Linked DNA regions of Homo sapiens. Changing the gene in region 3 together with the main gene of any one other region gives a genetic interaction. Each region holds a gene or a part of one and is shown on either strand. Other genes may lie near its edges.

What was found.
Region 1: changes in WEE1 (region 3) and TOP3A are lethal when combined (synthetic lethality), as found in Homo sapiens cells (one large-scale study listed by BioGRID).
Region 2: changes in WEE1 (region 3) and MTOR are lethal when combined (synthetic lethality), as found in Homo sapiens cells (one large-scale study listed by BioGRID).
Region 4: changes in WEE1 (region 3) and XRCC3 are lethal when combined (synthetic lethality), as found in Homo sapiens cells (one large-scale study listed by BioGRID).
Region 5: changes in WEE1 (region 3) and CDC6 are lethal when combined (synthetic lethality), as found in Homo sapiens cells (one large-scale study listed by BioGRID).
Region 6: changes in WEE1 (region 3) and DHFR are lethal when combined (synthetic lethality), as found in Homo sapiens cells (one large-scale study listed by BioGRID).
Region 7: changes in WEE1 (region 3) and ACACA together harm fitness more than expected from each alone (negative genetic interaction), as found in Homo sapiens cells (one large-scale study listed by BioGRID).

What each region holds. Positions count from the first base shown.
Region 1 is NC_000017.11:18,270,928-18,273,961, forward strand, and holds the end of TOP3A (DNA topoisomerase 3-alpha), read right to left. Parts: 3' UTR 501-3,034; downstream 1-500. UniProt on the Homo sapiens protein: Releases the supercoiling and torsional tension of DNA introduced during the DNA replication and transcription by transiently cleaving and rejoining one strand of the DNA duplex.
Region 2 is NC_000001.11:11,126,552-11,130,051, forward strand, and holds part of MTOR (serine/threonine-protein kinase mTOR), read right to left. Parts: intron 3,288-3,500; coding exon 3,187-3,287; intron 2,401-3,186; coding exon 2,304-2,400; intron 2,002-2,303; coding exon 1,903-2,001; intron 1,576-1,902; coding exon 1,453-1,575; intron 1,256-1,452; coding exon 1,073-1,255; intron 594-1,072; coding exon 459-593; intron 246-458; coding exon 71-245; intron 1-70. UniProt on the Homo sapiens protein: Serine/threonine protein kinase which is a central regulator of cellular metabolism, growth and survival in response to hormones, growth factors, nutrients, energy and stress signals.
Region 3 is NC_000011.10:9,580,170-9,583,669, forward strand, and holds part of WEE1 (wee1-like protein kinase), read left to right. Parts: intron 1-1,362; coding exon 1,363-1,509; intron 1,510-3,500. UniProt on the Homo sapiens protein: Acts as a negative regulator of entry into mitosis (G2 to M transition) by protecting the nucleus from cytoplasmically activated cyclin B1-complexed CDK1 before the onset of mitosis by mediating phosphorylation of CDK1 on 'Tyr-15'.
Region 4 is NC_000014.9:103,708,952-103,712,451, forward strand, and holds part of XRCC3 (DNA repair protein XRCC3), read right to left. Parts: intron 2,711-3,500; exon of another isoform or gene 2,617-2,710; 5' UTR 2,515-2,616; intron 2,295-2,514; 5' UTR 2,137-2,294; coding exon 2,082-2,136; intron 1-2,081. UniProt on the Homo sapiens protein: Involved in the homologous recombination repair (HRR) pathway of double-stranded DNA, thought to repair chromosomal fragmentation, translocations and deletions. Part of the RAD51 paralog protein complex CX3 which acts in the BRCA1-BRCA2-dependent HR pathway.
Region 5 is NC_000017.11:40,294,379-40,297,878, reverse strand, and holds part of CDC6 (cell division control protein 6 homolog), read right to left. Parts: coding exon 3,376-3,500; intron 2,524-3,375; coding exon 2,423-2,523; intron 2,299-2,422; coding exon of another isoform or gene 2,179-2,298; intron 1,177-2,178; coding exon 1,112-1,176; intron 1-1,111. UniProt on the Homo sapiens protein: Involved in the initiation of DNA replication. Also participates in checkpoint controls that ensure DNA replication is completed before mitosis is initiated.
Region 6 is NC_000005.10:80,641,484-80,644,983, reverse strand, and holds part of DHFR (dihydrofolate reductase), read left to right. Parts: intron 1-3,500.
Region 7 is NC_000017.11:37,086,665-37,088,836, forward strand, and holds part of ACACA (acetyl-CoA carboxylase 1), read right to left. Parts: intron 776-2,172; coding exon 652-775; 3' UTR 1-651. UniProt on the Homo sapiens protein: Cytosolic enzyme that catalyzes the carboxylation of acetyl-CoA to malonyl-CoA, the first and rate-limiting step of de novo fatty acid biosynthesis.

The DNA.
Region 1 (3,034 bases), on a different chromosome or scaffold from region 3:
AATCACCTGGGGAAGCATGTGCAGGACGTCAGCCAGGCTTCTTTGCCAAGATGGCAGGGAAGCCTCCAGTTACCCCATGGGCTCTCAGCATTGGTGTGGAGAGCAGGGAGGGGCTTTTTACAAAACTCTGATGGGGCTTGGGGGGACATGGCATCAGAGATTAGGTTTCAAGGCCAGGTTAGCTGCTTGGTAGAGGAAAACACTTAACCCAACAGAGCTATGGTTCCTGCACAAAAAGGACAGGAGATGCTGTCTTGCTGGCAGCAGGAGGTTGAAACCACTGTAGGTGACAGCCTGGCCAGTGCCTAGTCTCAGCTAGATCCATCAAGGGGGGGGCGGGGGGGGTCCATTTTCTTTTCCTTGGTTTTGCATTGCACAAGCTGCAGATGTGGCTCAACACAGGGACTAAAAACCCTTCCAGTCAACGTTGACGGGGTAGGATGAGCTGCATGCTGCTAACCTGAGTGGGCCATCGAGAGAGACTTAGAAATTCCAACAGGTTTGATTTGTGAAGCTTTAATTTGCAGTCGTGCCTGACCGTAAGCCTTCACTAGAGAGCCTCAATATGAACAAGGACACCCCATTACGGATGAGGCAACTGGGGCTCCAAGGATGAGGCTGCACACCCAGGGTGGCAGAAGAGGCCAGGAAGTGGGAGCTGAGCCTGGGTCTGTCTGATCTCAGATGCCTGGCCCAGTCCATGGTGCAGCCCAATCCTGCAGTTTGCTTTTGAGACACACAGTTGCCTGCAGAGATGTGAAAACCACAAAGGCATCTGATATCCAGAAACTATTAAGAACTCCTACAACTCAACAACAAAGACAGACAACACAATTTAAAAATGGGGGAAGAGACCAGGTGTGATGGCTCCTGCCTGTTAATCCTAGCACTTTGGGAGGCCGAGGCTGGTAGATCACCTGAGGTCACGAGTTTGAGACCAGCCTGGCCAACATGGTGAAACCCCGTCTTTACTAAAAATACTAAACAAATTAGCTGGGTGTGGAGGCAGATGCCTGTAATTCCAGCTACTTGGGAGGCTGAGGCAGGAGAACTGCTTGAACCCAGGAGGCAGAGGTTGCAGTGAGCCAAGATCGCACCACTGCACTCCAGCCTGGGCACAAGAGCGAAACTCCATCTCAAAAAAAAATAAAAAATAAAAAATAAAAAATGGGTGAAGAACTTAAATCGACATTCTCCAAAGAATGTATACCAATGGCCAGTAAGCCTGTGGAAAGATGGTCAATGTCATTAATGACTAGGAAAATGCAAAACAAAACCACAATGACACGCCACTTCATACCCACTAGGATGACAAAACACTAGGATGGCTATAATACAAGAAAAGGAAAGGAACAAGTGTTCACAAGGATATGGAGAAGCAGTAACCCTGGTGTGCTGCTGGTGGGTGTAAAGTGGTGCATCCACTGTGGAAAATTTGTAGGTTCCTCAAAAAGTCAAAACATGGAGTTATGGTATAAAACTACAATTCCATTCCTCGGCATATGCCCAAAATAACTGAAAACAAGTCATCAGACACTCATACACCAATGTTCACAACAGTGCTATTCACAATAGCCAAAAAGTGGAAACAACCCAATGTCCATCAACTGACAAATGGATAATCGTGTGGTATATTCATACAGTGGGCTATCAGCTTATCATAAACATCGAGGACTGACATGCTACAATGTGGATGAGCCTGACAAACATCAGCCAAGTCAAAGAAACCAGACACAGGATGTCATGTATGGTAGGATTTCATTTTTTTTTTTTTCTTGAGACAGAGTTTCACTCTTTTTGCCCAGGCTGGAGTGCAATGGCCCGATCTCAGCTCACTGCAACCTCTGCTTCCTGAGTAGCTGGGATTACAGGTGCCTGACACCACGCCCGGCTAATTTTTGTATTTTTTTAGAGACGGGGTTTCATCATATTGGTCAGGCTGGTCTCGAACTCCTGACCTCAGGTGATCTGCCCACCTTGGCCTCCCAAAGTGCTAGGATTACAGGCGTGAGCCACTGTGCCCAGCCTGGTATGATTCCATTTAAACAAAATATCCAGAGTAGGTAAACCCACAGAGACAAAAAGTGGTTGGTGGTACCCCGGAGCTGGGATAGGCAAAATCACACACGCAGGGCCACAACCCACACCCACTCGGAGATGTTCCAGGAACAATCTCAGGAACCTGCATTTGTAAAAATCCTCCCCAATACCCCATCAGAACACAGAGCCACTGGTCTATGGGCCAGGAGCCCAAGACCTGAGAACAATCCTAGTTTCTTCAACAACTAGCAACATGACTGGGCAACTCACACCCACCTCTGCTCATCTTCTAAACTGTAAATCAGAGTCCATATGGCTTGTATTATTCACAAGGTTTTTGTGAAGGCAAACGGGGGAACATGGCCACCACTGGAAAAAGTGGAAGATGGAAAGTTAGTGATCTGAATCTGAACCTTTCATTAGACATCTCTGCTCTGAGGGACCATCTGTGGGGTGAGAAGAAATTGGGCTCAGTGCTTACCATGTGGAAAGGGAGGAAGGGCTCTCCACATGGGACACAAGGGACAGCCATGAAGGACAGAGGCTGACGAGACCTCCCAGGGTGAGCTCCTTCCAGCACTGGCTGGTACCTGTTGCTTCTGCAAATGTTCCCCAGACCCTCTGCACTCTCGCAGGTCAGAGTAAAAAAAGGTTGGATTCTTTCATTTTAAAAAAAGTTTGAGACAGGGTCTTACTCTGTCACCCAGGCTGGAGTGCAGTGGTGTGATCATGGCTTGCTGCAGCCTCAAACTCTTGGGTTCAAAGGATCCTCCCACTTCAGCCTCCTGAGCAGCTGAACTAAAGACGTGTACAACTGTGCTTGTTATATTTTTAAAAATAGAGACAAGGTCTAACTATGTTGCCCAGGCTGGTCTTGAACTCCTGATCTCAAGCAATCCTCCAGCCTTGGCCTCCCTAAGTGCTGGATTACAGGTGTGAGCCTCCACGCCCTGCCGGGGTTGGATTCTTTTTATTTTTTTAAATTTTTAAATTT
Region 2 (3,500 bases), on a different chromosome or scaffold from region 3:
AGAAGAGGGAAGGGGTCTCAGCCAGTGTAGGAGGGAGAAGTGGGTGACAGAAGTGCACAATGGTCCTTACCCATAAGTGTCAATTTCCGGGGCCTCTGCTTGGATGTGATGACTTGCAAAGACGGTGCTATGGACTGAATGCGAATGATTGGCTGGTTGGGGTCATATGTTCCTGGCACAGCCAATTCAAGGTCCCGGCACATCAGAAGTTTTGGGGAAACATATTGCAGCTCTAAGGATGTGAGCTGTAAATAATTACCAAAGGATTTAGTGTTCTGCCTCCAGGGAAGAATTTAAACGCAATTTAAGTATTTTTCAGTGGATTGCTAATAACAATTACTTGTCCCAAAGCAGAAGTAAAACCAGATGCTTTGGAATGAGTGTTAGAACATTCATAGACAGTAAAACAGAAAGGACTATAATGACAGTTAACCCTGCCAGGAGCCTGAAGATCCTACCTGAGGCAGCTGCTTTGAGATTCGTCGGAACACATGATAATAGAGGTCCCAGGCTTGGGTGAGGTCCTTGACATTCCCTGATTTCATGTACTTCCTGCACCACTCTTGGGCCTCCATTAAATCTCGACCATAGGCCTGAGAGAGAAAGCAGGCACGTTTTCAAGTTATCAAAGTCTCAACCAACCCAGGAGGCAAAATCCCCAGGCTGACTGCAGATATTCCTCAGGAGCCCGCTGTGGCCTGAAAACACTGGCAGGGGGCTGGAGAAAGCAAGAGCATAGGTGCAGGCCTCCAACCCTGGAGCTTCCAAACCAGCAGCATGGCTTATAGGGAAGGAAGGGTGAGAGGAGAGACGAGATGACCTCTTGAGAAATCTTGGGCTTTTCCAGTTAAAATTCAGAAGGGTCCCTGTAACTAATTTCTGATGTTTTATGCTCTGTGACCTCCATCAGAGCTCGTTTTATTAAAGTCAGTGGAAAGGCCAGAGGAAAAGAAATCTGACAAAGGCCTTGGGTCACGTCCTTTCATTCTATAAAAACTTTTCTCATTTCATTTTTTTTTAGTGGCAGAATATTTCTACAGGGTTATGTCCTTTCGTGTTTTTTACCCCATACCTGATTAAAGGATGTTTCCTTCAGAGTCTGGGGGCCCCGTTCCATCATAGCATGCAAGGGCTCCAGCACCTCAAACATGCCTTTCACGTTCCTTTCCCCAAAGTACAAACGAGATGCCTCTTCCAGGCCTTCATGCCACATCTCATGCCAGAGGATGGCCACTCGGATCAGCTCCTCGCTCACCTGAAGCCAAGAGAAGAAGGAGAGAAGCATCAAGAATCAGCTAACCTCAGAAAGGTCTGTTTTGGAGACACAGGAGGTACTATTTCCAGCAGTCAGAGGAAGTGCACAGCACCAATGCGAGGAAGAAAAACAATCCCACTTGCGCCCACCAGCTAAGGGACCAGGGTCTATGAAGCCCCACAGTGGCTCCGACCCACCATCATGGCCTGCTGGACCAGGGTGTTGCTGTGCTCACACATGTTCTTCAGAATCTTGTTGGCTGCATTGTGCCGGGCTGTCGTGGTAGACTTAGAAGCCACTGTCAGTGGGTAGATGAGGGCCTGAGGGAAAAACAGAAGAAACATCTATAAAGGAAATGTGGGTTGGGGAAGAGCTGGTATGAATTTTAAGGAGAATAACAAAACAAGTGGTGAGTGTGACATTAACATCTGCTTGAGACTACCAGGAAGGGGCTCAGTCTTCGAGGGAACGCTTTCTTTTTAGCAAGGCTCCCGGGCCCTCTGGGACGGCTGGCTGGACAGACCCTCCTGGGCCAGGATGGAACACATGGCTCCCAGTTCCTGCGCTTGTGTCGCCAGGGCAGCTTTTGGAAAGGCTGACCACCAAACCAGTGGTTAGATGAGAAACTGCCCAGAGTCTCCACATACCTGGGGGTGGTACCGACCAATGTCTGTGAGAAGCTGGTGAATGAGACGTCCCACCAAGGGTCTGGGCGTATCAATTCTTGCAATGAGCTGAGGTATAACCTGGTATTCAAAAAGACACAGTATGTAGCATATGAGACTTGAAACAACTAGTTATTCTTCTAGGCAAAGATCAATTCTTTTAACTTGTTTCGGTTGATGCTCTGAAATGGTTCATTCCCTTCCCTTTAGTTTCTAAAAGAAAATAAAGAAAATATGGACACTTGACACTGGGACCGAGCCCTACTTCCTTAGCACTGTATTAACACACACTGCCTTGTGACACTGAACACAGCATGCTTGTAAGAGGAGACACACAGAAGAGAGACTTGGAGCCACCTTCACCTGTAACCAAGTATCCTCACCTGTAGCCAGGTATCAATCTGGATGGCTTTCACCCCCTCCACTAAGGCCTCATTGACATCTGGCCAGTGACCATAATCAAACCATAAGGTGAGAACTCTGAAAAAGAAATGAGAAAGTCACAGAAAATTTAGTTTCCCAGTTTTTGCCTGCCTGTTTTTCATCTCTAAGGCTCCTGAGAAGAGAGCTGGCAGGGACTCCAACCAGTAACTCTCAAATGTGTTTGGCCTCCCATGGGAGCAGGTGTCTGTGATGGGTGGCAGTGCTCTTGACTGAACACCGTAAGAGTCACCCTGAGCAAATGAGCATTTCATCCCAGGTCACCGAGGGGTCACCATGGCATGTATGCAAACATCAAACAGACGAGCCAGGATAACCTTTAGAAAGCCACAAGTCTGCACATGTAAGAGTCGCTGTACGGCAGAGGCAACAGGGACACCTGGCTCTTAGCTGGCTGGAGATCCTCAAATGAAGGAGGATGTGGACCTTGTCACCTTTACCCTCTGGGTTAACTGATTTGAGTCATTTGTTTAGACCTCTCCAAGTTGCTGAGGGATTTTAGAAATACTGTGACTTCAATAGGCAACAGGGTGGTCAGAAAAAAAGAAATATTGTGATTAACAGATGGGTTAATAATCCCTCCATAATAAACCACACATGGAGAGTTCTCACTCCACTTCTCCTCCTCACTCTCTGTAGGTTTCACCCACACAGGTGGGGCCCAGTCAGCTGTTACTCCTTAAATGCAGTGCAGAAAAAAGGCACATACATCGATCTTGGGTGTCCTGATCAGGGTCAGGAAGGGAAAGAGGACTTTTACGTGTGACTTCTAGGTCTTGCCATTAACATGGCCTACCAGAGTTGCATCCTTCCCTTCTCTGATACCTGAGTGTATCCTGGAGGTTGTTGCCTCGTGACAAGGAGATGGAACGGAAGAAGCCCTGGACGGCAGGCACCGTGTACATCAGGAGGGTTTTGGACAGATCCTGTTGGAACACACACGTGTTAGCGACACTCTTGCCTCTGCTTTCTCATCTGTAAAATGGGCATAAGAGCATACTAACTGTACCTACTTCAAAGGGTGGTTATAACAATTAAATCGGTTAATGCATGAAAAATCTTTAATCATTACCTGGCACATAGCAAAGACTCAATAAATGGCAACTGTATCATAACTGTTATTATCTTGGGCTGACAGT
Region 3 (3,500 bases):
CAGGTATGCTCATGCATTGACAATGGGCATATATATTGGTACAGCCTTCTCTGTGGAGAAGAGTGTGTGTGTGTGTGTGTGTGTGTGTGTAAAACACACCATCTCCATATATTACAAATGTGCATACCCTTTAACCCAGCAATTTGGCTTCTAGGTGATATACTAAATGTACGTGAAATTACCAATGTACAAGGTTATTTATTAGGCCATAGTATGTAATAGCAAAGGCTTGGAAATAATTTTAAAATGTCCATCAAATGAGGGACTGATAAATGCATTTCTTTCTTTCTTTCTTTTTTTTTTTTTTTTTCGGGGGACTGAGTCTCACTCTGCCACCAGGCTGGAGTGCAATGGCCCGATATCGGCTCACTGCAACCTCCGCCTCCCAGGTTCAAGCAATTCTCCTGCCTTCTGAGTAGCTGGGATTACAGGTGCACGCCACCACACCCAGCTAATTTTTGTATTTTTAGTAGAAACGGGGTTTCGCCATGTTGGCCTGCATGGTCTCGAACTCCTGACCTCGTGATCTACCTGCCTCGGCCTCCCATAGTGCTGGGATTACAGGCGTGAGCCACTGTGCCCAGCCAATAAATGCATTTCTACTCAATTATACAATGGAATTCTATAAAGACAAGAAGAAATGGGTTGTCTTTGTATATTGGTATAGAGTGATCTTTAAGATAATGAACATATGCTGTTATTTATGCAAAAAGTTGAAAAGAATACATAGACCTGAGCTGGGCGTGGTGGCAGTGCCTGTAGTCCCAGCTGCTTGGGAGTCTGAAGCAGGGAATTTGAATTTGGGTTTGGGAATTCTAGGCTGTAGTGCCGATCTATGTTGAGCATCTATGCCGATCTATGCCGATCTAAGTTGAGCATCAGTATGGTGACCTCTGTGGAGTGGGGCACCACCAGGTTGCCTAAAGAGGGGTAAACTGGCCTAAGTTGGAAACAGCACAAGTCAAAACTCCTATGCTGATAAGTAGTGGGATCAAGCCTGTGAATAGCCACTGGATTCCAGCTGGGCAACATAGATAGACCCTGTCTCTTATAAATTAAAAACAAAAACAAACAAAAAAAAAGCCAACCTGATAATACTGGTTTACTCTGAGAAAGAAACAGGTGGATTGCTGAGGTGTATGATTGAGAGAGAGACTTTACATTTTATTTTGTACCCATGCAAATGTATTACCTATTGAAAAAACAATAAAATTTTGATTTCACAAGCAGGTTGAAGGGAGAAGGTCCTATAAAATAACACTTTCTTGGTTGAGATTGGTTGGTTGAGACTCATTTGGTAAAGATGGAAGAAAGAAAATATTTCAGAAAGAAGAAAATGCTAATATTTTCTATCTTTGTTAGGTGGAAGTTTAGCTGATGCTATAAGTGAAAACTACAGAATCATGAGTTACTTTAAAGAAGCAGAGTTGAAGGATCTCCTTTTGCAAGTTGGCCGAGGCTTGAGGTATATTCATTCAATGTCTTTGGTTCACATGGATATAAAACCTAGTAAGTATTGCAGATCTTCTGACCTGTGTTCTTTGGGGTTATAGAGAATAAATTACTTCATTATGACAACATTGAAAAAATATATATCTTCTGTTTTCTCATTGTTAGTTTTAAAAGGCCTTAGATCCACTTACCAATATTGTTTTATGATTTCTATTCATCTCTTCCCTTGTTAATCCCCAAAATTTGAGATAAACTTTTTTGAGACAGTGTCTCATTCTGTGGCCCAGGCCGGAATGCAGTGGCACCATCTCCGCTCACTGCAACTTCCCCATCCCGTGCTCAAGCAGTCATCCCACCTCAGTCTTCCGAGTAGCCGGGACTATAGGCATGTGCCACCATGCCCAGATAAATTCATTTTTATTAAAAGCCAGAAATTTTTGCTGCATCTTACAGGAACTACAGGTGGGATACTAATGAGGGCACTAAAAATCTGTGTTTAAAGCCCCACTCTTCCACTAGGCCAGACCATATTAAAATTTCCCCAGTTGACTCAAGTCCTTAATAGTTGATTTGTTCAAATTAGTATCTACTTAAGGATCATGCATTGCATCTGGTTATATCAGTTTTTCTTTTTCAGAACCCATCCTCTGCTTTGTAAAAATAATATACACTTATCTTGCAAGCTATCCCTTTTTCTGGATTTGACTAGTTGCTTCTTGTATCATTTAGCTTGTTCCTTTTTCTCCTATATTTCCTATAAATTGGAAGTTATAACTAAGGATTATGGATTCAAGTTAAGCATCTTAGGCTAGATGAATTTAGTGAGGTTTTATTAATCTTTGGAAACCTGTTGATTTGTGAGAATTTCAGTCATTTTGTACAACTTTATGAGTTATATGCTAGAATTTCATATGCGTATGTTAACAAGTCACTAAAGTTTCTTCTTTCTTTTTTTCTTTTTTTGAGATGGAGTCTCGCTCTGTTGCCCAGGCTGGAGTGCAGTGGCACAGTCTCAGCTCTCTGTAACCTCTGCCTCCCACGTTCAAGCGATTCTCCTGCCTCCGCCTCCCGAGTAGCTGGGATTACAGGCATACACCACCATGCCCGGCTAATTTTTTGTATTTTTAGTAGAGACGGGTTTCACCATGTTGGCTAAGCTGGTCTTGAACTATTGACCTTGTGATCTGCCCACCATGGCCTCCCAAAGTGCTGAGATTACAGGCGTAAGCCACCGTGCCCAGCATGTTTTTTATTTTCAAAAGACAAAAATATATTTGGATTTAAGGCAGTAAATGTGAATTCTTAAGGAATAGCTGTACTCATATAAAGTGTTAGACAAATATAATAGACCCTTATAAGGTATAAAAGTTGAAAATATTAAGGGATGTGAAGTTTAAAAATCTTCAAATTTAGACCAGGTGCAGTGGCTGACGCCTGTAATCCCAGCACTCTGGCAGGCCAAGGCAGGCAGATCACGAGGCAGGAGTTCGAGACCAGCCTGGCCAATATGATGAAACCCCGTCTCTACTAAAATTACAAAAATTAGCCAGGTGTAGTGGTGCGCACCTATAGTCCTAGTTACTCGGGAGGCTGAGGCAGAAGAATTGCTTGAACCCGGGAGGCGGAGGTTGCAGTGAGCCGAGATTGCACCATTGCACTCCATCCTAGGCAACAAAGTGAGACTCCGTCTCAAAAAAAGAAAAAAAAAATTCGCCGGGCGTGGTGCCTCACGCCTGTAATCCCAGCACTTTGGGAGGCTGAGGCGGGTGGATTGCCTAAGCTTGGGAGTTCACCACCAGCCTGGACAACACGGTGAAACCTCGTCTCTACTAAAATACAAAAAATTAGCTGGGTGTGGTGGCAGGCACCTGTAGTCCCAGCTACTCTGGAGGCTGAGGCAGGAGAATTGCTTGAACCCGGGAGGAGGAAGTTGAAGTGAGCTGAGATCGCACCACTGCACTCCAGCCTGGGCGACAGAGCGAGACTGTCTCAAAAAAAAAAAAAAAAAACCTTCCAATTTACAAATACCATCACAAAATAAGTTGTCC
Region 4 (3,500 bases), on a different chromosome or scaffold from region 3:
GGTGCTGAGAGCAGGTTCCGGTACTGAGAAGAAACGACAGGCACCCAGTTCCATGCCAGCTGGAGACAGTGCTCCAGAAGGGGGCAGGAAAAAACCAGCACCGAGCTTTCCACCACCCGCCCACCAGGCATGGATCTGGGCTGAGCCGCGGGAGAGGACATGTGCCCTGGGGAGGGGAGCGCTGGGAGGGTAGCAGAGCCCAGGTCCAAACGCCAGCTGCGCAGGGCAGTCAGGGCAGGGGGCAGAGCATGTGCGAATCAGAACGGCGGTGGCAGCAGTTACAGGGGTGCAGATCCCCAGGACCTGCCATCTGGGGAGGAGGGCAAGGAAGTTAATTTTGGACTCAGATAAGTGCATCACTTTCTAATTTCAAACTTGTAGAAAGACGACAAATGCTGCAGACTGATCAGCCGATCAGGGAAGTGCGAGGAAGCGCACACGAGAGGGAGCAGTGGTGGACGAAGCGCCCCACCCGGCCACGGGGACTTACACCCACCACATCAGAAACCCCCTCAACACGGGTGCGCTGAACGCTGCAGTGAAAAGACAACCATTGTGCGGCTGGAAAACAGTAAGCACTGGTGTGATCTTCAGAAAAGCCACACAGAAAACACAAGGAGATGGAAGGGTGGGAATGAAGAAAGCGCCCCTGGGTTTCACCAGATCCAGCGGAGGGGGCTTCCCGCAGACAGGCTGCTCCAGAAGGCTCTGTGGGCCCTGAGGACTCACCGGGATCGGGGCTGTGGCAGGGCGCTCCCCCTGGTAAGCCTCACAGCCCCAGCCCCCTTCACAGCCGTGAAGTCTGCAGGGACTTCTGGAAACATTGGTTTTTGGATAAGAGACACAGGTGAGAAAGGAACTCCCTGGCTGAGCCCTTCTCTGTCCCTGGTCTGCAAGCGTCGTGTCTGCAGCTGTGGCAGCAGCTGTGATCACAAGGCCACCAACAGGAGGATAAAAACCAACAGCCAAGGATGGAGGGTCAGGACAGCGAGGCCCTGCCCTGTCACCAGGCTGCTGCGGCAGCTCCATGAGCACTCCGGCTTCTCGCCACAGACAGCGTGCTGAGGTTCACGTAGCTGAGGCCCGGGGAGACGGGGGAGGATGGAAGCTGGCAGGAGGGTCCCCGGATGACAGCCAGGCGGCTGGCATGGGGAGCAGGGGGCAGGGGCTGCACGTGGGGCCTGAGTTTTGAGCATTTACTAACTCGGGCGAAAAAAGATGCTGTAAGAAAGAAAACCATCCCCTGCACCACCACACCAGGTTCAACAATGGCCAGTATGCACCCAGTCACAACCCTGACAGCTGATGTCACCCAAACTAGGTTCTAAGTATGGGCAGGGAGCTGGGGGGAGAGGAAGTTGGGGTACACAGGTGTAGGCACGCTCAGTCCTCACAGCCCCCAAGAGAAGTCCATGGATAATCAGTAACACTGACAAATCAAACATTACAACATAAACACGTTTAGGAGCCCAGATGTAAATATTTTTTAAAAAAATAACTAAAAGACGGCCGGGTGCGGTGGCTCATGCCTGTAATCCCAGCACTTTGGGAGGCTGAGGCGGGCGGATCACGAGGTCAGGAGATCAAGACCATCCTGGCTAAAACAGTGAAACCCTGTCTCTACTAAATTTACAAAAAAATTAGCCGGGCGTGGTGACTGGCGCCTGTAGTCCCAGCTACTCGGGAGGCTGAGGCAGGAGAATGGTGTGAACCCCGGGAGGCGGAGCTTGCACTGAGCTGAGATCGCACCACTGCACTCAAGCCTGGGTGACAGAGCGAGACCCCGTCTCCAAAAAAAAAAAACTAAAAGACTTTATGTGGCTCCATTTTACCTTTTAGACAATATGCATGTATTACTTTGATAAAAATAAAAGTAACTGAAAGAAATCCATGTAGTTAAGAACACACACACACACACACACACACACACACCTGAAAATCCCATAGTACATCCCGCCCTCGGTTTAATAATCAGGGTAGGCAAAGGAAGGAAGGCTTAGCCAGCCAGCGTTTTGTTAACCTGCCTTATATAAACTGCACACACCCACCCACACCCTTTATGTAAATAGAAATAAATGTACCTTTCTTAATTGCAGCAATAATTCTGGGATTCAGGTCCAGTAGATCCAAATCCATTTTGTCGGTGGGCTGGCCACCAGGATGAATAACTTCCCAGGAAAGACAGAACAATGGATGCAAATTCTGAGGCACTCGCCTTCAATTCAAAGCCTGTGGGAGGCCCGAACCAGGGAAGTGACAGCAGCCGAGGTGTCCGTGTCATCGGGGCTCTGTCACTGAGGGTGGAGGAGACTTCACTGTAGAGGGAAGGCTGTCTAGCTACATCTAGGGCAACATGTCTGTCATTTACCTCTAAGAATTATTTAGCAGCTTAGAACCCATTCCAGACACTGATGCATTTGAAAAACCCCCCAAACCCACCACATTTACCTCCTGTGGAAAGTGCTAGAAATAAGACCATCCTCCTGCAGCAGTTGAGTGCCCTGCCCGACTCACCTCTCTGGGGCTTGGGGATGACCCGCGTGTTTTTGGCTGACTTGACTGAGGCATCTCTTGCACTCTGCAGTTTAATTTCCCTTAAGTGTCTCCCTGGGGACTCTGGAAAGAGTGGGAAGGTGAGTCTGGGATTGGCAGGGTGCTCAGGGATCCAAACATCAGTCGCCCCCAGCAGCCAACAGCAGAAGACAGCTTCCTGTGGGACGGGAGGAAGGTGCTGTGGACCCCACCCAGCCTCTCCCAGGAAGGGAGCTGGCAGCCATTCCACAGCCCGAGCCTGGCCCAGCAAGGGAGAAGCTCAGCTCTTCTCCCCTCCGGCCTCAGCAGGCTGCTCAGGGACTCAGCCTGGGGTCACATAAGGCCTTTCCAACAGGCCACTCTGCATCCCCTGTCGGCCTCCCAAATGGTGAGACCAAGAGTGTCCAGGACATGGGGAAACTGGAAGGCAGCAGCCTCGAGGGCCGGGTCCAGGATCCATGTCCTCCAGTGAGGCCTGGCGCCCTTGGCCGTAACCCAGCAGAGGAAAGGGCGGGCCGTGGACTTGGAGAAGGTTTTCCCTTGGACCACACAGAATGCGGCACTGGCCTGGACACGATCACGCTGGTCACTCGTATGCCCATGTTCAGCCTGCTCAGGGAGACAGGAACAGACTACAGGAGCAGCAGGCTGAGGCACGCCCCCAGGCACCCCGTGAGGCGGGCAGGGCAGGGAAGCTGGTGCTCCAGGATGCGTTTCCTGCCCGCGCACCAGGCTTGGCTCCCGGGCCCCCACAGCCTGTGGGTTTTCTGAGCAAGGGACAGGGAGGTGCCCAGGCCTGGTTGCCCAGGCAGGCCTGACAGGAACTGGCGAGAAGCCACCCTGGAGGGCCGGGCGCAGGCCAAGGCAGGGCGGTGGGGCGCTGAACCAGCTCCAAACTGCTGGCAGAGCTGGCCAGAGTGAGGAAGTGAGGTTCCCAAGCACAGAAGGCAAATCAAAAAGGAATGCCA
Region 5 (3,500 bases), on a different chromosome or scaffold from region 3:
CATGCAGCTTACTGTAGCAGTATGATCTTTTTACCTCTACCCTCTAGACTTGTTTAAAAGCTTGAGATATCCCAAGTTGAACTTATAATTCTTCTTATTATTATTCTTTTGGGACAGGGTCTCGCTCTGTTGCCCAGGCTGGCAGTGCAGTGGCACCATCTCGGCTCACTGCAACTTCTGCCTCTCCAGCTCAAGTGATTCTCCTGCCTCAGCCTGCCAAGTAGCTAGGACTACAGGCACACACCATGCTTGCCTAATTTTTTTTAAGTTCTGGGATACATGTGCAGAACATGCAGGTTTGTTACATAGGTATACATGTGCCATGGTGGCTTGCTGCACTCATCAACCTGTCATCTAGGTTTTAAGTCCTGCATGCTCTCCCTCCCTTTGGCCTCCACCCCCAACAGCCTCCGGTGTGTGATGTTCCCCTCCCTGTGTCCATGTGTTCTCATTGTTCAACTCCCACTTATGAGTGAGAACATGTGGTGTTTGGTTTTCTGTTCCTGTGTTACTTTGCTGAGAATGATGGTTTCCAGCTTAATCCATGTCCCTAAAAAGGATATGAACTCATATTTTTAATGGCTGCAAAATTTTTAAAATTTTTTGTAGAAACAAGGTCTCACTATATTGCCCAGGCTGGTCTCACAATCCTGGGCTCAAGCGATCCTCCCGCCTTGGCCTCCCAAAGTGCTGGGATTACAGGTGTGAACCACCGCACCTGGCTTCACAATTCTTTTACCCAATTCTCCCTTATTTATCAGGCTTTGCTTTCACCTATATTGAGACCTAAAGTGCACGCAACATAAGCACCCAGAGAGCTGATCCAACCTCATTGTCTACAAGTTTCATTTCCAGAGCTTGGAAAAAAAACTTACTCTGTCCCAGCCATTTACGCAATCAATACCCTGGGAACTCATTTCCAGTAATGCACGAACTATAGTACTGGCAGGCAAGATTGAAATAAAGTAGACGAAACGGACTAAAAACACAGACACACATAAAAATGGGTGAGTTTGGATTTAACTATGTTCATTTCATCTTTCTACCTCTTTCCTCAGAAAAGCTAAGCTTCTAGTTACAAAGGAAGACAGGAAGGAGATAAACTACTTACATTCAGACAGTGGTTTGAGAATAGTCTGGCTTTTGACATCTGACTCTACAATTTCAATAGCTCTCCTATAAAAAAAATTTCTAAAATTAATTTAGTCTGAGCCAAACCAAACACACCAAACCACCAGCCTCAAAAGCGGCACATTAATGACCATTGCTCAAAGACTGCAACTATGAACAATGGTCATGTAGGCTAACATGGTTTAGCCTACACATATCCTACGTGTAACTTTAAAATTATGATGTTTTATAATTTTAAAGCCCCCAAACAAAACTGGGTTATTTCTCAGATAAGGGGACTTAATTGCTTTGAAATAATTCATGGACATCAGATTTGAGAAACTTCAATGGTTTCCTCCTAATGGATGCCAAGTAGGTCATCATACATTAAGCCAATGATAACATTTTGGATGAGGAGAAAATGTCATGGGTAGGAGAGAGGATATGTAGTGTGGGTGACTGACTAAAGGGAGTCAGCATCACCCATACACACCAAACCTAAAAGGGATATCTTCAGTTATATATACATAGGATATGTGTAGGCTAAACCACGCTAGCCTACATGACTATTGCTCATAGTTGCAGTCTTTACCCAAGTAGTTTGCTGATTAGGGGAAACTTTCAAATTCAGGATCATGCAATCTAGCAATAGGAAGAGCTTACTCTCCCACTGCTCTCTCCAAAGTACTTGCCCACAGGAAGCCATAAGCCAGACCTGGGTCTTCTGCATAGCAATAGGGGGAGGTTGGACCAGCAGGCCAGCACAGCAAGTATCATTTTAATGGACCCAGTGTCCCTACTGGGAAGGAAGAAATTTCATCAGTCGGCACAGAGGCTTTCCCCAGCAGGAGGGGCAGGAGGATGGGAAGGGAGAAAGAGGTCTGGAGTACAACTGTGGGGGACCACCAACTGAAGGGAAGAAGGGGTGCTCACAAAAGGAAAGGAAGGGGAACAAGTCTAAAGGCAAAGACGGTTCAGGTCCATAAATAAACCTGCTTGAGACCAGCTAATGGAAAAGTAAACTGGAGTCTTTTTTAATACAAATGTAATTAACCAATCTATAATCACCACAGGGAGTGCCAGCAACATCTCATTTGTTTCTCCCTCTGTAGGTAATGGACTGATAATGTTTCAGACATTAACACGGTGGAAATCCAGAGCTCCCCACTGAGAAACAAGTCCTCCTTTCTGAGCGTAAAAAAGTAGCAGAACAGAGCCTCTTAAGCCACATTCACTTGAGTTACATGAGACAATTAACAGCATTTCTTTTTTTTTTTTTTTAATAAAAGAATGCAACAGAGCCGTAACTCACCTGCAAACATCCAGTGCTTTGCGAACATCTCCTGAAACAGCAGAGACTTTGCGGGCACAGAATTGAACTGCAGCATTGTCCAGAACCTGATCTCTAGATACCTTCAGACAAGACATAGAAGATGACAGTTTGAACCATAAGATTCTCCCTCTGTAATTTAGGTCCCAAGCATAAATATTTTCACATTTAACCCTAAACTTGATTGGCAACTCTTTAGGGTTAAAAAGATGCCTTTTCTTCTCATAAATAATGGAGACGTTTGAGAGTTTTCACACATTTAAGCTTTTTGTACGGATGCAGTAGAAGTTCATAAATGGAAAAAAGCAATCAGAACTGAAATTAGCAAAAATAAAAAATCTATTTAGTCATTTTCAACAGAAAAAGTTTTTTCATAGGCCCTATTTTTTAAAGGTCATTAAAGAAAGCACTTGAGGCTGGGTGCGATGGCTCATGCCTGTAATCCCAGCACTTTGAGAGGCCGAGACAGGCATATCACCTGAGGTTAGGAGTTCGAGACCAGCCTGGCCAAGACGGTGAAACCCCAGCTCTACTAAAAATACAACAATTAGCTGGGCGTGGTGGCAGGTGCCTGTAGTCCTAGCTACTGGGGAGGCTGAGGCAGGAGAATCGCTTGAACCCGTGAGGCAGAGGCTGTAGAGAGCCGAGATCACGCCATTGCACTCCAGCCTGGGCGATAAGAGCAAAACTCATCTAAAAAAAAAAAAAAAAGCGCTTGGGTGATTCCTCTAACTCCTGCTTTTATTTCAACACTGAGACACCCAGTAAATGAATGAAGCTGAAATTCACATAAAAATGTTCTCACTATGGTCCATAGGAACTCCTTGCTCCATTAATAAAGCAATCAAGGCAAAAATATTTTAGAACTATTGTTAAATTTTCCTAGCACAGGTGATCCAAGGAACACATAATTTGGCAAAATAGTTGGCACTGACCTGATTAAGTCGATCTTGCAAAATAGTGACTATCTGATTTCTGGTATAAGGTGGGAAGTTCAACAGCTGTGGCTTACATTTTTCTCTAGCTTGAAGCCTAGGTAGAATTCTATCTGTGAGATCCA
Region 6 (3,500 bases), on a different chromosome or scaffold from region 3:
GAATGACCCACTGTCACCCAGGCCAGAGGGCAGTGGTGTGATCGCGGCTCACTGCAGCCTCCACCTCCCTGGCTCAAGCAATTCTCCTGCCTCAGCCTCCCAAGTAGCTGGGATAACAGGCATGTGCCACCATGCCCAGCTAATTTTTGTGTTTTTTAGTAGAAATGGGGTTTCTCCATGTTGGCCAGGCTGGTCTCAAACTCCTGACCTCAGGTGATCTGCCCACCTCAGCCTCCCAAAGTGCTGGGATTACAGGCGTGAGCCACCGTGTTCGGCCTACCCTGTTTTAAACCTCACCATAGTTTACTTTTCTTCTACCCTCAACTTTCTCAGAGCTTTCTTGTATTAAATAACTTTAGTATGATTAAAATAAAATTCTATACTACACTTTGGTTGTAGTCTGTCATGCCTGTGCCTTTGCACATGTTTTTATCTCCTTTGACACTCAGTTAAGGAGTCATGCCCTGAGGAGTATTCTCCCTCATCACCCCGGCCCTGCGTTCCTGTATAGCGTCCTCTGCATGTCTTCGTTGTATGTCCTTTCATACATTATAGTCACTGCTGAGATATTTCTGACTGCTATCACAATCTCTTTGAGTTCAGGGACTGCATATTTTATCTCTATCCCCAGAATCTAGCATAACCCCTAGCAAAGTAGGAATTCAAAAATCACAGAATGAATAGTACATAGGTGATTTATAAAAATAGAACCATCCCACATAGTACCACTTTGTAACCCACCTCTTTTTCCCTCAATATATTAGAAAATAAAGTCCTGTAAATATTTTTAGTGGCTGCATAGTATTCCATTATGAGGCTGGATCATACCCAATTTTTAATATGAGCATACCTCAGAGACACTGCAGGTTCAGTTCCAGACCACTGCAATAAATAAAGCATATCACAATATAGGTAGTCACATAAATTTTTTCTCAGTGCATATAAAAGTTATATTTACACTATACTGATAGTCTAATAGATGTGCAATAGTATATCTTTAAAAAATGTATGTACCTTAGTTAAAATATGACTGGAAAATGCTAACAATCATCCGAGCCTTCAGTGGGTCATAATCTTCTCACTATGGAGTGTCTTGCCTTGATATTGATGGTTGCTGACTGATAAAGGTGATGATTGCTGAAGGCTGGGGTGGCTGTGGCAATTTCTTAAAACAAGAATGAAGTTTGCCACATTGATAGACTCTTCCTTTGAAGAAAGATTTTTCTGGAGCATGTGATGCTATTTTATAGGATTTTACCCACAACAGAATTTCTTTCAAAATGGGAATCAGTCCTCTCAAACCTTGCTGTTGCTTTATTAACTTAGTTTGCATAGTATTCTAAATCTTTCGTGATCAACAATGTTCACAGCATCTTCACTGGGAGTAGATTTCATCTCAAGAAGCCAGTTTCTTTGCTCATCCATAAGAAGTAATTCCTTATCCATTGACATTTTATCATGAGATTCCAGCAATTCCATCCCATCTTCAGGCCCCACTTTTTTTTTTTTTTTTTTTGAGACGGAGTCTTGCCTGTGGCCCAGGCTGGAGTGCAGTGGCCCGATCTCAGCTCACTGCAAGCTCCGCCTCCCGGGTTCACACCGTTCTCCTGCCTCAGCCTCCCTAGTAGCTGGGACTACAGGTGCCCGCCACCACGCCTGCTAGTTTTCTGTATTTTTTAGTAGAGACAGGGTCTCACTGTGTTAGCCAGGATGGTCTCCATCTCCTGACCTCGTGATCCGTCCACCTTGGCCTCCCAAAGTGCTGGGATTACAGGCATTAGCCACCACACCCAGCCCAGGTTCCACTTCTAATTCTAGTTCTCTTGCCATTTCCACCACATCTGCAGTTATTTCCACCCCCAAAGTCTTAAACCCCTCAAAGCCATCATGAGGGTTGGAATCAACTAACTCCAAACTCCTGTTAATGTTGATATTTTGATCTCCTATGAATCATGAATGTTGTTAATGCCATCTAGAATAGTGAATCCTTTTTAGAAGGTTTTCCATTGACTTTGCCCAGATCCATCAGAGGCTATTGCAGCTACGGCCTTACAAAATGTATTTCTTAAATAGTAAGACTTGAAAGTCAAAATTACTCCTTGATCCATGGGCTGCAGAATGAGCAGGAATATTTTGAAAGGAATCTTCCTTCCTGAGAAGTAGGTCTCAACAGGAGGCTTTAAATATTTAGTGAACCATGCTATAAACAGACGTGCTGTCATCCAAACTTCGTTGTTCCATTTCTAATACACAGGCAGAGTATATTTAGCGTAATTCTTAAAGGCCCTGGGATTTTCAGAATGGTAAATGAGCATTGGCTTCCACTGAAAGTCATCAGCTTGCATTAGCTCCTAACAAGAGAATCAGCCTGTTCTTTGAAACTTTGAAACTAGGCATTGACTTCTCCTTTATAGCTATGAAGTCCTAGATGGCATCTTCCTTGAATAGCAGGCTATTTTGTCTCCACTGAAAATCTGTTCTTAGTGTAGCCACCTTCATCAATGATCTTAGCCAGATCTTCTGGATAAACTTGCTGCAGCTTCTACATTAGCACTTGCTGCTTCACCTTGCACTTTTTTCTTATGGAGACAGCTTTTTCCTTAAACGTCATGAACCAAACCCTTGCTAGTTTCAAACTTTTCTTCTATAGCTTTCTCACCTCTCTCAGCCTTTACAGAATTAAAGAGGGTTAAAGCCTTGTTCTAGATTGGGCTTTGGCATAAGGTACTGTGGCTGGTTTGATCTATCCAGACCACTCAGCTTCCTCTACATCAGCAATAAGGCTGTTTGCTTTTTTGTTTTTGTTTTTGTTTGAGACGGAGTCTCGCTCTTTCGCCCAGGCTGGAGAGTGCAGTGGCGTGATCTCAGCTCACTGCAAGCTCCACCTCCTGGGTTCACGCCATTTTCCTGCCTCAGCCCCCCAAGTAGCTGGGACTACAGGCACCTGCCACCATGCCTAGCCAGGCATACACTTTTTTGTATTTTTAGTAGAGACAGGGTTTCACTGTGTTAGCCAGGATGGTCTCGATCTCCTGACCTCGTGATCCGCCCACCTCGGCCTCCCAAAGTGCTGGGATTACAGGCGTGACCCACCGCGCCTGGCCAAGCTGTTTGCTTTCTTACCATTCACATTTTCACTGGAATAGCACTTCCAATTTCCTTCAAGAGCTTTTCTTTTGTATTTACAACTTGGCTGTTAGATGCAAGAGGCATGGCTTTTGGCCTGTCTTGGCTTTGATGTGCCTCCTTCACTAAGCATAATCATTTCTAGCTTTTGATTTTACATGAGAAATATGCGACTCTTCCTTTCACTTGTACGCTTAGAGGCCATTGTAGGGTTATTAATTGGCCTCATTTCAATATTGTTGTGTCTCAGGGAATTGGGAGGCCAGAAGAGGGGGAGAGAAACAGGAATAGCCAGTTAGTGGAGCTGTCAGAACACATAACATGTATCGATTCACCATCTTAAAAGGGCATGATTTATGGCACCCCATAACAGT
Region 7 (2,172 bases), on a different chromosome or scaffold from region 3:
ATTTTCTTTCTCTGCTTCTTGGCTCACAGTTTTGCCCTCATCTTTGAGTTCCTATGGAGCTTGTAGTAGATTTTATGCTCTAATTTTTCTTCATAAAAGGTACCGTAGTGTGGTTAAACTGGGAATCATTCCTCTCCAGTGCCTACTGTGTGCTGGGCTAAGAGTCGGGGTAATAAACAATGGACTTGAGGCTTCCTCCTCTCCTTAGCCCTCCTCTGCTGCCTGTGGCTGCGGCTCATGGGGCCAGGAGTGAGGGGGGCTGCTCACTGCTGGGCAACTCCTCACGCTTCCCCATGCTGGGAGGCCAAGGGGCTGTCAGGACAGGAGGGGCAGCCCTACTTTGGTTAGTAAGACCTCATGGTACATGTTTGTACCTTTCATTGCCTTCTCAGTCCTGTGCAGGGAGTGGAGGACTAGGCCTGGCCAGGGTAATAAATACTGAATGGGGTAGGTGTGACTGGTGGGCTGGAGGGGGATTCTGTGATCTTACATCCCAGGATGTCATGCATAACCTGAAACGAGAGGAAGTAAAATGCCATTTGACTCCAGTGCTGGGTCTCCTGTGCCTTCTCATTACAGTGGTTACAGTTGTAAAAGGCAGCTCTAGCCCTTTTCTCCAGAGACAGGGCAGGGACAGGCAGGAAGCTCTTCCTACGTGGAAGGGGAATCCATTGTGGAGAGGATCCGTATGACTTCTGCTCGCTGAGTGGGTGATATGTGCTGCGTCATATGGATGATGGAATCCATGGCAACCTCTGGATTGGCCTGGACCAAGCTGGAAAGGAAGATTGAGAATGGTGAAGAAAAGAGAAGCAGAAGTGTCTAGATGAGGACAGCTAAAGAACTGCCCAATAAACATGTGTGCACCGTCCACTGCAGACATTTTAGTCACGCCTCACCTTATTTGTTTCCCTATATTACAAATATCCAGCCAAGGTAGTGCAAGACAAACCCAAAACATTTTGCTATGTTGAAAAAGGAATTAAACCCAAAACAAAACCCAAAAAAAACCCAAAACATGCCAATGGGGGCATGTCACAAAGACAGCAATTGGGGCATCAAAAGCAGCCCAGCAATGAATTATAAATCAGTAAAAAATAGAACTTCATGAGTCTGTACCAATAATGTATATATAAAAGAATCGGCAGGAGTGAGGACTGAGTGGTGACTGGTAATTGTGGAGGGTGTGCTGGAGTTGGAAAGTTATCATTTTGCAAGCTCATCGTAAAGACTGCACCAGAGGGAAATTTTGATGAAAGCAAGATACTTGCATGGCCTTAAAATGTCTTCCTGCAGACTACTTATTAGGTGCAAGGGGGGAAAATCAGTAATTATACGGTAGAGAAATGGAGCAACATCTTGACCAGCGGATGAAATTAACACGAGGAGGAGCAGATAAACAGCATGTGCCCCCAGATGTGGTGCCCTGTGAAGGTTCTGGCCAGAGTGCCTCACCTGCATCTCATCATGGGGAGACATCAGACAAACTCAAAATGAGCAATGTTCTACAGATGGTAGATATCAGATAAAAGTTTTTAATCAATGTTAAATTTACAAAAGTGGATCATTTTATGATGGTTATGTAAAAGTATCCCTATTCTCAGCAAATGCACACTGAAATATTTGGGGGTAAAGGCCATGATATATGTAACACCCTTAAGTAGTTCAGAAAGAGGAAAAATGTATACACATATGGGAGGGCAGGCACACTCATAAGTGATATAGCAACGGGGAGAAAATGTAACAGGTAAATCTGAGTACAGATATTATATATAGGGGTGTTCTTTGTACTGTTTTTAATTTTATAACTTTTCTGTAAGTGAAATGTTTCCAAATAAACTTTTACAAAAATGCCCCTGCAGTCTCTACCACCGATCCTATGGAGCAGACTGAAGCCTCTAGAAGAATACAGCTAACTCTTGGCTTCAGGAGGTGAGGAGGTGGTTTCCCAGGAAACCACCACACACACAATCAGCTTTCCTCCCAGAGTTGTTCATCCGGTTTGAGTATCAGCATTCAGAGCTAAGAGGTGGGCACAGTGAATTAAGCCTTCATCTAGCTGAGATTACTAAGTGCCCCTGGGGAGCAGTAGCTGAAAAAGAATTGGGCTTCAGGCCATATCTGTACCTGTGGGTCAACTACAGCTGTCTCAAACAGCAAGAGACTGCAGAG